Linked DNA regions of Homo sapiens. The protein of the gene in region 3 purifies or fractionates together with the protein of the main gene of each other region. This does not show direct contact. Each region holds a gene or a part of one and is shown on either strand. Other genes may lie near its edges.

What was found. The genes of interacting proteins can lie anywhere in the genome.
Region 1: the proteins of WARS1 (region 3) and GNPDA1 fractionate together in Homo sapiens (co-fractionation; one large-scale study listed by BioGRID). This does not show direct contact.
Region 2: the proteins of WARS1 (region 3) and SEPTIN9 fractionate together in Homo sapiens (co-fractionation; one large-scale study listed by BioGRID). This does not show direct contact.
Region 4: the proteins of WARS1 (region 3) and MAPKAPK3 fractionate together in Homo sapiens (co-fractionation; one large-scale study listed by BioGRID). This does not show direct contact.

What each region holds. Positions count from the first base shown.
Region 1 is NC_000005.10:142,010,228-142,014,207, forward strand, and holds the start of GNPDA1 (glucosamine-6-phosphate deaminase 1), read right to left. Parts: upstream 2,801-3,980; 5' UTR 2,768-2,800; exon of another isoform or gene 2,523-2,767; coding exon of another isoform or gene 2,442-2,522; intron 2,113-2,441; exon of another isoform or gene 2,061-2,112; intron 1,815-2,060; coding exon of another isoform or gene 1,809-1,814; coding exon 1,685-1,808; intron 1-1,684. UniProt on the Homo sapiens protein: Catalyzes the reversible conversion of alpha-D-glucosamine 6-phosphate (GlcN-6P) into beta-D-fructose 6-phosphate (Fru-6P) and ammonium ion, a regulatory reaction step in de novo uridine diphosphate-N-acetyl-alpha-D-glucosamine (UDP-GlcNAc) biosynthesis via hexosamine pathway.
Region 2 is NC_000017.11:77,490,999-77,494,498, reverse strand, and holds part of SEPTIN9 (septin-9), read right to left. Parts: intron 1,879-3,500; coding exon 1,783-1,878; intron 1,520-1,782; coding exon 1,423-1,519; intron 1-1,422.
Region 3 is NC_000014.9:100,365,348-100,368,847, reverse strand, and holds part of WARS1 (tryptophan--tRNA ligase, cytoplasmic), read left to right. Parts: intron 1-1,804; exon of another isoform or gene 1,805-2,260; intron 2,261-3,500. UniProt on the Homo sapiens protein: Catalyzes the attachment of tryptophan to tRNA(Trp) in a two-step reaction: tryptophan is first activated by ATP to form Trp-AMP and then transferred to the acceptor end of the tRNA(Trp).
Region 4 is NC_000003.12:50,644,651-50,648,150, reverse strand, and holds part of MAPKAPK3 (MAP kinase-activated protein kinase 3), read right to left. Parts: intron 2,442-3,500; coding exon 2,366-2,441; intron 2,012-2,365; coding exon 1,887-2,011; intron 1,412-1,886; coding exon 1,326-1,411; intron 1,029-1,325; coding exon 948-1,028; intron 258-947; coding exon 105-257; 3' UTR 1-104. UniProt on the Homo sapiens protein: Stress-activated serine/threonine-protein kinase involved in cytokines production, endocytosis, cell migration, chromatin remodeling and transcriptional regulation.

The sequences.
Region 1 (3,980 bases), on a different chromosome or scaffold from region 3:
AGCTCACTGTAACCTCTATCTGCTGGGTTCAATTGATTCTCCTGCCTCAGCCTCCTGAGTAGCTGGGATTATAGGTGCCCGCCACCATGCCCAGCTAATTTTTATATTTTTAGTAGAGGCAGGGTTTCACCATGTTGGCCAGGCTGGTCTCAAATTCCTGACTTCAAATGATCGACCCACCTCAGCCTCCCAAAGTGCTGGGATTACAGGCGTGAGCCACCACACCCGGCCCTGTGGCCTGTTTTTATACAGCTTATGAGTTAAGAATGGTTTTCTTTTCTTTCTTTTTTTTTTTTTTTTTGAGACAGAATCTTGCTCTGTCACCTAGGCTGGAGTGCAATTGCACAATCATGGTTCACTGCCTCGACCTCCTGGCCCAAGCAATACTCACACCTCACACCGTAGCCTCCTCAGTAGCTGGGACTACAGGCATGTGCCACCATGCCTAGCTAATTTTTCTATTTTTTGTAGAGATGGGGTTTTGCCATGTTGCCCAGGCTAATCTCAAACTCCTGGGCTCCAGCAATCTGCCTACCTCAGCCTCCCAAAGTGCTGAAATTACAGATATGAGCCACCATGCCTGGCCTGGTTTTTACATTTTTAAATAGTTTTTTTTTTAATTAAAGAAGAATAATATTTTGTGACATGTGAAAATTATATAAGTTCAAACTTCAGTGTCCATACAGTTTTATTGGCATACAACCATACTCATTCACTTATATATTGTCTTTTCTTTTTTTGAGACAGGGTCTCACTGTCACCCAGACTGGAGTACAGTGACACAATCATGGCTCACTGCAGCCTCAATCTACTGGCTCAAGCAATCCACCTACCTCAGCCTCCCAAGAAGCTGGGACTACAGGTGAGCGCCACCATGCCAGGCTAATTATAGCTGCTTTCAAACAACAGAAGGGTTAAGTTGTTGCAACAGAGACTATATGGCTAGTGAAGTCTAACATATTTACTACTGGCCATTTACAGAAAAAGTCTGGACTGCAAGGAAGACCAAAAAAAAAAAAAAAAAGGAAAAAGAACAAGTTTGAAGACCCCTCCAACACACACACACACACATAGACACGCTAATGGATGGGTCAGGTAGGGCCACTAGGGCAAACCCATCCATCTCTGAAAGAAATAATCAGGACATTTGTCTTGAGGAGCTGGGGTCAAAATATCTTTCTGAAAAAGCAACATTTTGATTTTTTCCAAAAGAAATTAGAACTGTTTTTTATTTAGGTCCTGTGTTTAATTAAGCCTTACAGAAAATTACCTAAGTGACTATCTTTTCAATTCTCCCAAGGATGGTACTTAGCTGGTACCCCTCTAGATGCAGAGAAGAGAAATTAATTCATTACATAAAATGAATGCCTTAGGGTATCAGGACTTAATTCTGTTAAGAAACCCTGGTGGACAGGGCTGACTTAGGATGTAGCCTAAAAATCAAATTCTTCCTGCCAACCAAGATCCCTTCTGCTCCAGGATTCTGCAGGGACAGGCAGCGACTAAACCAACCCATAAGGGAAGCTGGGTCCTTTGTATGTGGAAGGGGCAGGAAGGTGCTCTCTCAGCACCAGTACCCCAGAGCCCCCGTGAAGTCCCTTGGCTGAGTGAGCCGGTGTACCTGGCCCCTGTTGCCTACTCTCTCCACCCTTATCCACGGCACCCTCTCCATCCAAGAACGCACCAGTGGGGAGCCCCAGGGTGAAGTACTTCTCTGGCCCTGGGTTAAACTGGATGATGCGGTTCCTGATGTATTTAGCCGCCCACTCGCTCGCCTGAGAATAGTGCTCCAGGATGATGAGCTTCATCTTGTCCTGCAGTGGGGGAGAGGGGATGACAGAAAGGAATCAATGGTAAGGGGCAGAGAAAGAGATGGAGGTGGTGGGAGAAGCTTCTCTTACCCAGCAACAATCCCCTTCCCAAGCTGTCTGAGCCAGGAAAAAGGCCTTTCTATTCACAGAGGAGCTAAGAGGCTAGGCCAGTCGTCTCCACCACCCACAGACCACGAGGAGGCGCCACTGGGGGCAGATCTGGGTTCTAATCTCAGCTCCTTCACTTACCACCTGCAGGACCTCGGTCAAAGGACCTAAGTTCTCTCTGAGCCGTTTCCTCCTATGTAAAAATTGGGACAATAGTACCTACTTCACAGACTTCACGACGGGTAATATGAAATGAGAGAATGCATGTAAACAACTTAGTATTTTCTACGTTGGCTGTTACCATCCAGATAGATGCTCGGCTCAGCCCCGCCTCCCTCATCCCTGCCCCTACCGGAACGGGATACCCTACCCCCTCCCCGCCGTCTACCCCAAGACTCTTCCTCCAGAAGTAGAGAGGTCATGGGATCATGCTGGGCCACTAGAGCAGGTGGGGCAATGAGCTCTGCCTGGGGAGCTGTGTGCTCTCTCTGGACTAGCGGAGGGGTCTTCCTACTGGCCCACCTTGCTTTGCGAACCCCTCTGGGTCTTCAGTTTCCCCCAAAGCACAAAAGGGAAAAGGTAATCGCTCCAGAAGGAGGACATTTTGTTCCCCCAGCACTGCGGTTAGTGGGAGTGTGAAGGAAAGAGGCGAAGGTGGCCCGCGCGGTCGTCGGTGGGGTACAGCGTGTCCCCCACCCCCATTACCACCCCATCGCCCCTCCGATCCCTCCTGGAAAATGTGTGAGGGCGGCTCCCCGGGGTCCCGACCCCGAGTGCCGTAGGGCTGGGGCAGCGCTCCGCGCTCCGGCCCGCGAGGAAGGTCCCCGCCAGCCCTGCTACCCACTTACACGGACGCCTCCCGCGGCGGCTGCAGCGACTGCGCCGGCGGCCCGGCCCCGCGCGGGTCACGTGGCTGCGGGTCACGCGGCGCCGCGTGCGCCGCCCGCCGGGCTGACTCAGCTTGGCCGCAGCTACCCGGACCGACTCTCCCAGGTGGAGGAGTTCCGGCCACTCAGTCCCACCTCGGTCCCTGGCCCCGGCAGGCCCTGGAACAGACCTTAAAAAACACTTTCCCTTGGGAGGCGGGGATTCGAGTCTGGTTTGTGTGTGTGTGTGTGCAAGAGGAGGGAGACTTGAGGGGCGCCGGGTCGCCCCCAGGAATACAACCCCCTGGACCTTGGGGCTGGGGCCGGGGGGTTTTAGTGCAGGGGTTGAGCTGGGGGCAGGCAAAGCAGAATCGCTTCCTCAGTCTCCTAGGGTTGGGCCTGGCTCTGCCTTCAGTTTCTTTCTTTGTTTAGATGCCATTTATTTACCCAAGTATTAAAACTTGTGTTGTTTAAAGTACAATTGGGCTTTTTAATGTCCTTTTTTAAAGATCAAACTTTGCAGCATTATATAATAGAGAAAAAGGCAGGCCCCTGGTTTCCCCAACTCCCCACACCAAGATAACCATTGCTTAGTTTAAGAGTACATTCTGAATTGCTTTCTTTGAATATGCTTACACTGTTATTTTACATAAATGGGAACACATACACATGAGGCTTATATATATCAAGGCTCGGATATTTGACCTGCATTATTTCACTTAATCCTTATTAAGCTCCAGTGAGGTAGGTTTGCCGTTACTTTTTAACAGGTGGAGAAACTGACGCTTGGAGAGAAAAATTAACTTGGCCAGAGGCACAAGTGGTTTCCCTTGTGCCTTCAATTCAGGGGGATCTGTCCAAATCCAAAATCCATGCTTTTTACCGCTAGCGGGCACTGCCTCCCAGCTGGTATGACTGGATTTGGGACGCTTCCATATCAGAAAAAGAGATCCATCTTATTCTTTCCAGTCAACATTAGAGTGTTCCAGACTTCTAGGGACACTTGGGAACTTTCCATGCGGAGGCTGGAGGAAGGACTTGAGTGCTGGTCATCAGTAACATCTTCCATTACATAGGGTTTTGCCAGAGCTTTGTGCGCATTATTTCATAGAATCCCGCCCAATCGTCAGATATGATTACCGCCATTTTATTGATGTGGAAACTGGGGATCAAAGGCGTACAGAGACTTGTGATA
Region 2 (3,500 bases), on a different chromosome or scaffold from region 3:
TGTGGATGATGAAAACTGAGGCCCTGGAAGATTAAGAGACTTGTGCTTCCTGCTCTACTGGGCCTTTCAGCCAAGTGCTCTCCCAGAACAAAGTGGCTTTTCCTGCTGCATTTCCCTCTGCACCTTCCCCTCTTCCATTCTAATGAGAAATGAAGGGACAGAGAGAGGAAGGGGAAGGAAACGTTCGGGCCCATCCCTCCCGGGGTGTCACCGCCAGGAGTGGGTTGAACTGTGGCCCCCCAGGGGCTCCCATCCATTCAAAGACATGGTCAAGGTCCAGGCCTTGGAACCCATGATTGTGACCTTACTTGGAAAACGTCTTTCTTTATAGATTCATTAAGGATCTCCAAATGGGATCATCCACTTAGGGTAGGCCCTAAGTCCAAAGACAGGCATCCTTGTCCAAAGACAAGAAGGAAAGAGGGCAGGCTCGGTGGCTCATTCCTGTAATCCCAGCACTTTGGGAGGCCAAGCAAGGTGGGCAGATCACCTGAGGTCAGGAGTTTAAGACCAGCCTGGCCAACATGGCGAAATCCTGTCTCTACTAAAAATACAAAAATTAAGTCAGGTGGGTGGTACGTGACTGTAATCCCAGATACTCGGGAGGCTGAGGCAGGAGAATTACTTGAACCCAGGAGGCAGAGGTTGCAGTGAGCTGAGATTGCAACACTGCACTCCAGCCTGGGTGACAGAACGAGACTCCGTCTCAAACAAAAAAAAAAAAAAAAAAAAAGGAAGAGGAGGGACGGGACAGAGACACAGGGAAGAAGGCCCTGTGACAATGGGGCAGAGATTAGAGCATGTGATGCCTTTACAATACAACTAGGAATGCCAGGCGCCACCAGAAGGAGGAAGGCATGGATGAGGCTGGTCCTCAGGGCCTCAGAAGGAAACAGCCCCTGATTTCGGACCTCTGGCCTCTGGAACTGTGAAAATACGTTTGTGTTGTTTTAAGTCCCCTCGTTTGTGCTAATTGGTTACAACAGCCACTCAAGAGACTAAGGTGTGAGGGTCCCAGGAACTTCAGCAGGGTAAGGGGCCGAGGGTCCATCTGGCTCACAGAGCTACAGCCCACCCCTTTTCTAGGCCCAGAGAGGTTGGGCGATTTGTCCAGGGCCACACAGGTGCCTATGAAAGAGCCTGCACCAGGATCCAGAACTTGGCGGCCCCCATCCCAGCTCCTGTCTCCCTGAATCTTTCCCTGCCCGGGGGGAGGTCTGGGGTGGAGGCATCTGCACAGGCCACTTGCCCTCTCACTTTCCCAAGGGTTGAATGGGGACAAGGAGACCCCTCCCTCTGGGTGGGGCAAGGCAGTGGATGAGGTTCCACGAGTCCCTGGCTCAGGCGTGGCCCACAGGCTCTGGGTCAGCAGAAGAGACTGTCTTCCCATCTGTCTGGAGCCCCGGCGCCTGCGGCGAGTACCTTCGATGGTACCCCACTTGGTCTTCCTCCCAAGGATCCTCTTGCCGTTGACCTGGTACTCGTGGTCACTGCCCACCACAGCAAATGGGATCATCTCCTGGGGAACGGGCAGACGGTATTGGTTACACATGTGCGGGAAGGCAATTCCCTCCCCTGGGCCCCCGGGAGGAGCTGCCCTGAGCCTGGGGTCCCCCAAAAACGAGAGCCTCAGCCTGACAGCACTGGGTACAGACACCTGGGCTCAGTGCCCTCTGGCCCCAAGAATATAATTTCATGGCTTAAGGTCCTCCAAACCCCCAACCCACCCTTCAGCAGGAACTGGGGGTCCCCTGGGAACAACATCCTAGTGGATCCACTCACCCGGAACTTCTCGTTCACCAGCCGGTCCTCCGAGTCCTCATCAAATTCCTTCTGGGGGTACACGTCGATGCCGTTGGACAGCAGGTCTGCGGTGATCTGGGATAAGGAGGGAGAGAGATGGGCCCATCCCTGTGGCAAGCTCTACCCACCCACTGGTGTTTGCCACATGACCTCCACACTGTGTGCTGCCCCAGGCTCGGGTTCAAGGGCAGGCTCTGGGGGGCTGTGACACCAATCACCTCCAACTCCTGTGCCTCCTGGAGGGAAGAGGGGCAGCTGCAGGTGCACCTGCTGTCCTGAGCGACGCTGCAACTCCCCAGGGGCTTAAGGTCATCGTCCTGAGCACCTCCCACCTCTCTTCTCCTGCTCATCACAGCCCCAAGAAAGTACTCAGGGTTACCGAGACCTCCCCTCCTGAAACCCTTCCTAAAAAACCCTCGTCACAGTCCCCAGTTCCAGCAGGGGCCCCGCCTGCAGTAACCTCTCAGCTCCCTGCCAGCAGCCCGACATGGGTACGTGCAACAGAAACATCCCAGTGAGCGGCTGCTCGCCTGCCCAGGCACAGACCACAGCCCGTGTGTAGCCTCCGGCAGACACACCCACTTTGTGTGGACTGTCTTCCCCTGCACATGCTGGGAAGGTCCCTGACACCTGGCCCCAGGACGGAGTAGGTTACAGGCCCCACCCACACCCACCGAGGCAGATGTGGTGCCGCAGCCCAGGCACCTCGGTTTCATTTTGAAAGGCACCCCATGTGGCTCTGATGTGCTGCCCTGTCAGGAGGAAGAGCCCAGGGCTGCCCTCTTGCTTGGATGCCCCTCCCTATCCCACAGCAGGGGCCTCAGACGGTGGCGGAGAAGAAGGTGGCAGAGACCATCCCTCCTGAAACTTTTTTTTTTTTTTTTTTTTTTGAGATGGAGTCTCGCTCTGTCACCCAGGCTGGAGTGCAGTGGCTCAATCTCGGCTCACTGAAGCCTCCGCCTCCCGGGTTCAAGAGATTCTCCTGCCTCAGCCTCCCAAGTAGCTGGGACTACAGGCGCCCGCCACCATGCCCGACTAATATTTTTGTATTTTTAGTAGAGATGGGGTTTCATCATGTTGGCCTCAAACTCCTGACCTCAAGTGATCTGCCCGCCTCGGCCTCCCAAAGTGCTGGGATTACAGGCGTGAGCCACCACACCTGGCCCAGCTTCTCTTCCATCTAATAAAAACCAGGCAGGGCGAGGTGAGGTGGCTCATGCCTGTAACCCCAGCACTTTGGGAGGCTGAGGCAGGAGGATCCCTTGAGCCCAAGGGTTAGAGACCAGCCTGGGCAACATGGCAAAACCTCGTCTCTACTAAAAATACAAAAATTAGCCAGACATGGTGGTGTGCGTCTGTAATTCCAGCTACTCGGGGACTGAGCCTGGGAGGTGGAGGCTGCAGTGAGCCATGATTGTGCCACTACATTGCAACCTTGGCAACTGAGCCAGACCCTTTCTCAAAAAAAAAAAGGGGGGGCATAAAACAAGGTGGGCCATGTCGCACGGCCCCTGCTCGGCCTCACTCCCTGGAAGAGAGATTCACCATCTGCCTGGTCCAGGTCTTCTCCAAAACCCCCCTCAGAGACTCTGCTGGAGAATTGGCACTCCCACAAAGCTGCTTTTGAGATATGGGGGAGCTGGAGAGGCCATCTCAGGGACGGCCCCCAGCAGCCACCTGGGCCAGGGACCACCAGG
Region 3 (3,500 bases):
CTGGGATTACAGGCATGCACCACCACACCCAGCTAATTTTGTATTTTTAGTAGAGATGGGGGTTTCACCACGTTGGTCAGGCTGGTCTCAAACCCCTGACCTCAGGTGATCTGTCCACCTTGGCCTCCCAAAGTGCTGGGATTACCAGCATGAGCCACCACGCCAGCCTTGGTTATAGTTTTAAATGTATTTTTCCTTTATCAACATTGGGATGCCTGTGGTCTAAAGAGTCAGGGGTTCTCAAAGCCTTTGTGAAATACAGTGGCCCTCCAGCCCACCTCTCCCTATTTCCTGCTCAATTCTTTTAGCCGATCTTTTGGTTATGTACTCCCCATATCTGTAAATATTCTGCTTATCATATTGTTCCTTGTTGATTTTCAAGTTGGGGTCTTTCAGGTGGAAATGAAGCATTCGTACCTTCACAACCACTTCCCGTCCAGGCAGTCTCCCCATCTGTATTGCAGTTGTAGTTAGGTCAGTATCTGTACACTGACATTATTATGACCATGGAAATAGACGTGGACAGCTGAACCATCACGGATAGAATGAGTACTCTAACTTTCTCGCCCAGCTTTTGTTTTCTCTGGAGTTAATATTTGTCTTAATATCTGTTTGCTTGACTTTTTTATGTCAATGATACTAATGATAATGTATCTCCAAGCCCTTTCCCTGTCCAGTGAATCTCCTTTCAACACACATCAACTAGTCTATCAAGTTCATCTTCTTGAGGCGATCTCTCCCAAAACCTTCTGCCTGCTTCCCTCTGAAGTGGGGGCTCTTGCTTCCTACACTGCCCATCTTGGCGTCTTTCTTCACTGTCGACCCAAGGGGTTCTTTCACCCCTGTCGATTGGGTGCCCCGTTTCCTGCTCCTGCATCTTTATTCCTCTTTGCTTTACTCTTTGGGCAGAGCAAATCTTCCAATTGTTTCTGAAAAAAATATTGCAAAGGAAATATTTCTAGGGGGATCTTGCCCATCTGAAAGCGTATTTATTTTACCTAAAACATGATTGATAGCCAGGCTGGGTGTAGGGTTCTAGCATGGAAGTGATTTCCCCTGGAAATGCTGAAGCCACTGCTCTATTGGCACCTAGCTTCTGGGCTTGCTGCAGAGAAGTCAGTTGCCATTCCTTTGTTTTTTCTTTTTGGAAGTTAGCAGGATCTTCTTTGTTCCCGTGTTCTGAAATTTCATGGGATGCAGGTTCAGTATGCCTTTCTTTTTTTTTTTTTTTTTTTTTTTGCCACCCCACCCCCGCCCCCCGAGATGGAATCTCACTCTTTCACCCAGGCTGGAGTGTGGTGGCACAATCTCGACTCACCGCAACCTCCGCCTCCTGGGTTCAAGCAGTTCTCCTGTCTTAGCCTCCCAAGTAGCTGGGATTACAGGCATCCGCCACCATACCAGGCTAATTTTTGTATTTTTAGTAGAGACGGGGTTTCACTATATTAGCCAGGCTGATCTCAAACTCCTGACCTCATGATCTGCCCACCTCGGCCTCCGAAAGTGCTGGGATTACAGGCGTGAGCCACCACACTCAGCCTGCCTTTTAGACTAGAAACTCATGGCCGTTAATTCTCAGAAATCATGATTTCTTTGATCTCTTCTGTTTTCTCTCTTCACAGACTTTTTTTTTTAATTCAGAGACTGTTTCTCTGATTTTCTAACCCTCCTATTGTTTTCCATTTCTGCTATCATTTTTAACTTCCAGGAGCATGTATGCTCCCTGAAGTTTCCTCACAGCACTCTGCCCTGACTCATAGGTACAGTACCACCCTTTTCTCTCTGAGATTTTTTTTTTTAATCTTATTTTACTGTATTAAATCTTACTAATATTCTGTAAGGGACAAACCAGACGAGTAGGCTACAGTGAAGAAATCTTATTTTGGAGAGTTAAGAAACCACTATGATACTTCCAGGTATTATCTTCAGTGATGCTTCTTATCTTTATTCAGGGACTCCAGGTAATATTCAGCTCCTACAGCTACCACAAATGCAGCAAATCCCCATTTGAATCCTTTAAACAATACATCAAAAAAGGAAACACTCTTTGCAAAGCCACCCATGTATCTTCAAGCTTCATTGTGGCCCCACGGATCCCTTAGCCCTTTTTCAGCCAGCTTCTTCTGGATAGTTTCTAATGGTGTCCCTTCTGTCTTCCGTTGTCTGTAATCTAGAAGTTCCATTTTACGATGTCCATGCTCATGTCCATGTCCATGGGCCATGTCTGACAGCAATCTGACCTCTCAGGACACTCAACTCTCTCTCTCTGAGATCTTAATGGTAGTTTTCCATATGTCCTCTACATCCTTTATAACCTCAGTTTCTTCCATCTTAATTTGTTTTCTACCTGCCTTTCATATTAGAGGCAATTCTCAACTGTTTGGTGTTTCTTGGCTATTTGCTGGTGTTTTGGGGGGTGCACTGAAAGCTGCTGGATGCACTCTTCATTGGGGAAGAGCTTATCAACATAGGTTCCACTTCCTGGAGAGTGACCAGGCTGCTCCCCTTTTGTTGGGGAATCTTTCGTGTCAAGGTCTTTAGATCTTTTCTTTAAAGTTAAGTGAGATTCCCCAGAGAAAGCTCCCCCAGTCCACTGTTCAGAGGGGGTGAGTCCCGCTGCCAGAGTTCTACGGCTGAGTGGGAGAGAAGGGCTGGGCTGTGGGATCCTTCCCCGAAGCTCCCTATTCTCTGTGTGCTGCCAGTGCCCCAACTGTGCAGACTGCCCCCAGTCTAGGCACCTGTAACTCTGTCCTCTCTTGACATGAAACCTTGGAATGGAGGGGAAACTGTGACACTCCCTTGGCCGAGGGGAGAGGGATTCTCAATAACTGCTTCTTGAAGAGACTTCAACCAGCGCTCCTGTTTTCATAACCCGCTTTCCTGCCCCCACTCCTGTAAGTGCGCAAGGTCACTAAGGCCCGAACCTTTGGGTGATTCCGTAACAGTGTACACTCGGTCACCTTCCAGTATTTCCATGATGTCTTAGCATTTGTTTTTCTCTCATGCTGTTAGGCACTGATCATTCATCAGCTTTCTGGCTTCTGAAACCTTGTTGCTGTCATCCTCTTCTTGTTTCCTTTGTCCTTGTGGGATTATGCTTTAAAAAAAAAAAAAAAAAAGAAGATCTCTGCTTTTGTTGTAGTAGATTTCAGAAATATCATCATCAATACGCATCTTTAACTAGAACATAAGCATTTCATTTCCTTCTGGGGTGACTCCACTCCGGCTTCTCCATGACTTCCATCACTTTTTTTTTTTTTTTTTTTTTGAGGCTGAGTCTCACTCTGTCGCCCAGGCTGGAGTGCACTGGCACAGTCTTGGCTCACTACAACCTCTGCCTCCTGAGTTCGAGCGATTCTCCTGCCCTGGCCTCGTAAGTAGCTGGGACTGCAGGCGCCCGCCACCACACCCGGCTAATTTTTGTATTTTTAGTAGAGAGGGGGTCTTGCCATGTTGGCCAGGCTAATCTTGAACTCCTGATCTCAGGTGATCCGCCCGCC
Region 4 (3,500 bases), on a different chromosome or scaffold from region 3:
TCCTTTTGTTAAAAGAATGACCCTGGGCCCTCCTGGCCAGGGCCTGAGCACATTTCAGTCTGTTATGCAGGCTGAGAGGCCAGGCTCCTCCAAGGCCCCATGAGCTACTGGTTGTTGCAGCCCTGTGAGGCAGAGGAGCTGCCTGCCTGCTTTTTTCTCCTCTTGTTGAGGAGCCGGTTGTTAGAGGTCTTCAGGTCCTTGATCTTCACCTGGTCGTAGTCTACCCGCATAGTGGCCAAGGCACTGGTCATCTCCTCCTGGGGACAGACAGGATGGTGGGCACTAAGAGGTCAGGATGTACTGACCTTAGGAACCATCACCCCCCTGCCTGGGCAGCCCCTTAATGTCAGTGACAGCCTGTGCTGCCTCTGTGCCCACTGTGTGCCCAGCACTGGGCCAAGCCCTTTGCATCACATGATCCTCACTACCGTCCTCTGTGGTAGACACTGAGCTTATTCACTAAGGCACAAAAGGAGAGTTACTCCCTCGGACCACACCAAGGGTAAGTGGGATAGTGAACTAAACCAGTTCCACCACAGAACCACAAGACCTGCAGAGAATGCCATCTCGCTGGGCAACCAGCGCACTGGGGCCTGGAGATTGTGCCACTGGAGCTGCTACTCCATATGTTCAAACGTGGCCTCTGCTGGGTCTAAACCAGGCTGACCACCCTCCCAAATGTTGTTGGTTATAAGAGAGGTCATCATCCAAGCTTGGTACCAAAGCCCCGTTTCATTGAGGAAGTGAGCCAGGAGCACCACACTGAATGGCGTAGTGAGGCCCAATCCTTGGAGTGCCATGGTTGGACCACTGCGACAGTCACTGACACCCTGTGCTCCAGGTATAGAAAGGGGCCAAAGACCCCAGACCCTGGGTAGCCACCCCCCTGAAGTCCCTTTTGCCCAAATCCTGGCACCTGTATTGAGACTGAGGCAGAGCCCACCCACCTTGACTTCGTCCCAGTGGTCTTTGTCCTCCTGCAGCACTCGGGCCGTGTGGAGTGGGGTCTGTGGCACTACCATCGATTGCTGGAAGGAGCCCCACGCCCGTGGATTAGAAACTGGAGGCACCTGGGACAGCACTGGTTCCCCCTACTCCATCCTCTTCTCCCAGACTCAGATGGAAAAACCAAGGCTCAGGGTGGGGAAGGAGCCTCACTAGGGCAGTGACAAAGCCAGGTTGTAGGTGAGGCCCTAGTATCTACCTGTGTGCATGGGCCCATTCCAGCCCTGCACTGGGGCCTCAAAGCAGAGCCACCACCCTCCTGCCCGGCAGCCCCACTCCTGTTGGACACCCTGCCTGCCATGGGAGGAGGAGGGGCTCACGTTGATCCAGGGGTGGTTCATGAACTGAGTGATGGTCAGCCTCTCTGTGGGGTCTGTCTTCAACAGGAGGCGGATCAGCTGCTTGGCTAGGGGGGCCAGGGAAGAGAGGGGAGAGATGAGATTGCAGAGCCAGCCCCTCCACCCTTCCCCACAGACCACAAGCTCTGCTGGGGCAGGGGCTGCATGTGCTCCCAAATTCCCAACCCACAGAAAGAGTGAGCTAACAACTATTTCTTGTTTTGAAACACTAAGTGTTCAGGATAATTGGTTAAGCAGCAGTAGATAACTCATACAGGGCAGCCTTGTTTGTGGTCCTCAAAGGGGAAAATATGAATGAGGAATAGGAGTTAGAGGGAGTTTTGAGGAGGCAAGTTTTGAGCCTGTTTGGCAGATGTAGAAACTGAGGCTCAAGAAGGTTAGGGGACTTGCCTAGGGTCCCATAGCTGGAAAGAGGGGGAGCCAAGATTTGAACACAGGTCAGTTTGACACCAAAGTGATGTTTCCCAGAATGAAAGCCGCAGGGGCCAGGTGAGTCAGGCTGGGACAGAGAGGTTCACTCACCATCCTCAGAGACTTCTGACCACTCAGGATTGGGGAAGCCGTACTGGCCCAGGCGAATCCTCCTCTTCATCCCCGGGGAGATGGCCTGGCCCGTGTTGGAGTAGAAGGGTGGGAAGCCACAAAGGCTGGGGGAAGGGGTAAGTCATTTGGCATAGGGTGGGAGCAGTGCCAGGGTGGACCCATTTCCCCTCAAAAGCCCCTGACTGGGGAGACAGACAACCAGACACCATAGCAATAATACCAGCCCTCCGGACTCCCAGGCACATCCCAGGAATGCCATCAGCCCTTGGCATGGGGAGACCCTCAGGCACCTGAAGGAGTGGTGTCCCATGACCAAAAGGGAAGGGCAGCCTGCATGAGGAGTGACACACACAAGCTCCTCACCAAGGACATGGGGGTGGGGGGACAGAAGTGGTCCTGAGGGCTCACAGTGGGGGTAAGGGCAGGAGATGGAGGCAGGGGGTGGGGAAGGTACTCACAGGATGTACATGATGACACCCAGGGACCACATGTCACATGACTTGTCATACTTCTCTGGACCCAGGACCTCAGGGGCTGCCAGGGCAGAGGGACAGCAGGGCTCTCAGACCCAAGGGTCTTGGAGCCCAGGCAGGAGCCTAAAGCCTGGGCAAGGTGGGGAGCAGGTACCTGGGCTGGGAGGTAGGGCAGAGCAGACTGGCGTCTGGCACCTTTTGGAAAGGCAGCATGTGTGTGAAGTTGGGGGAGGAGAAAGCTCCTGGAAAAAAATCAACCACTTTCAGACATACCCCTAGCTCCCTTGGGCCTGAGCCCCTCTACCAGTCTCAACCTTGGTGAAAGAAGAGAAGAGAAGGCCAGTCTGGGGCTTGGTGGGAAGCTACCGTAGGTGAGAGGGTCTTGGCCTGCCAGCTGTCCTGTGTCCCTTGCCTCCCTGAATGCATAGCCTAGGTCACAGGCAAGGAAGAACCAGGGACAGGGCTCTGCATTCCATCATCAGCTTGGCTACCAATCCATGGAGCCTTTGTCTTCCCTGTGCAATGAGGTGGGTAGGCTAGAAGATTTCTAAGTTAAAATACTTAGTGCAAAACACATCCTAGTTAACAGAGTGCCATTTCAACTGTCTCAGGGAACTTCCCACCCCTTCAGCAGCCCTCCAGGAAGACCTCTTCTGAGGGAGAAAAGCCCTCTGTCATCACCCCACTCTCAGGTTAGGGGGCAGTTTTGGCAAGGAACATTTTCAGATCCGGGGGTTGCCCACTTGCAGAAGGGCAGTGAACTTTTCCAGGAAGCATGAGTATGTGCACACCTCCAAGCCCTGGCTTTAGTGACCGTCTCCCACAAGGCAGGTGACTGGTACCCTTTGTCCCTCCAAGTTAGGAGGAAATGCATGCCCACTTTCTGAATATGAATCCCAGGAAGACAAAAACTAGAGAAAAACAACCGCGGTTGGGCTCCGTCCCAAGCTGATGGCAGCCTTTTATCACATATATATTTAGAGCTGCTGTGATGTCATTCAGCTCACAGGCCACAGCCAGAATTTTCCTGGATCTATTTTCAAAAGCAGAAGCTGAAGTTTGGGAGAATATTTTTGCAGCCTCCGGCCCCCCACGTCACCCGCCTCCATGCAGACAGAAT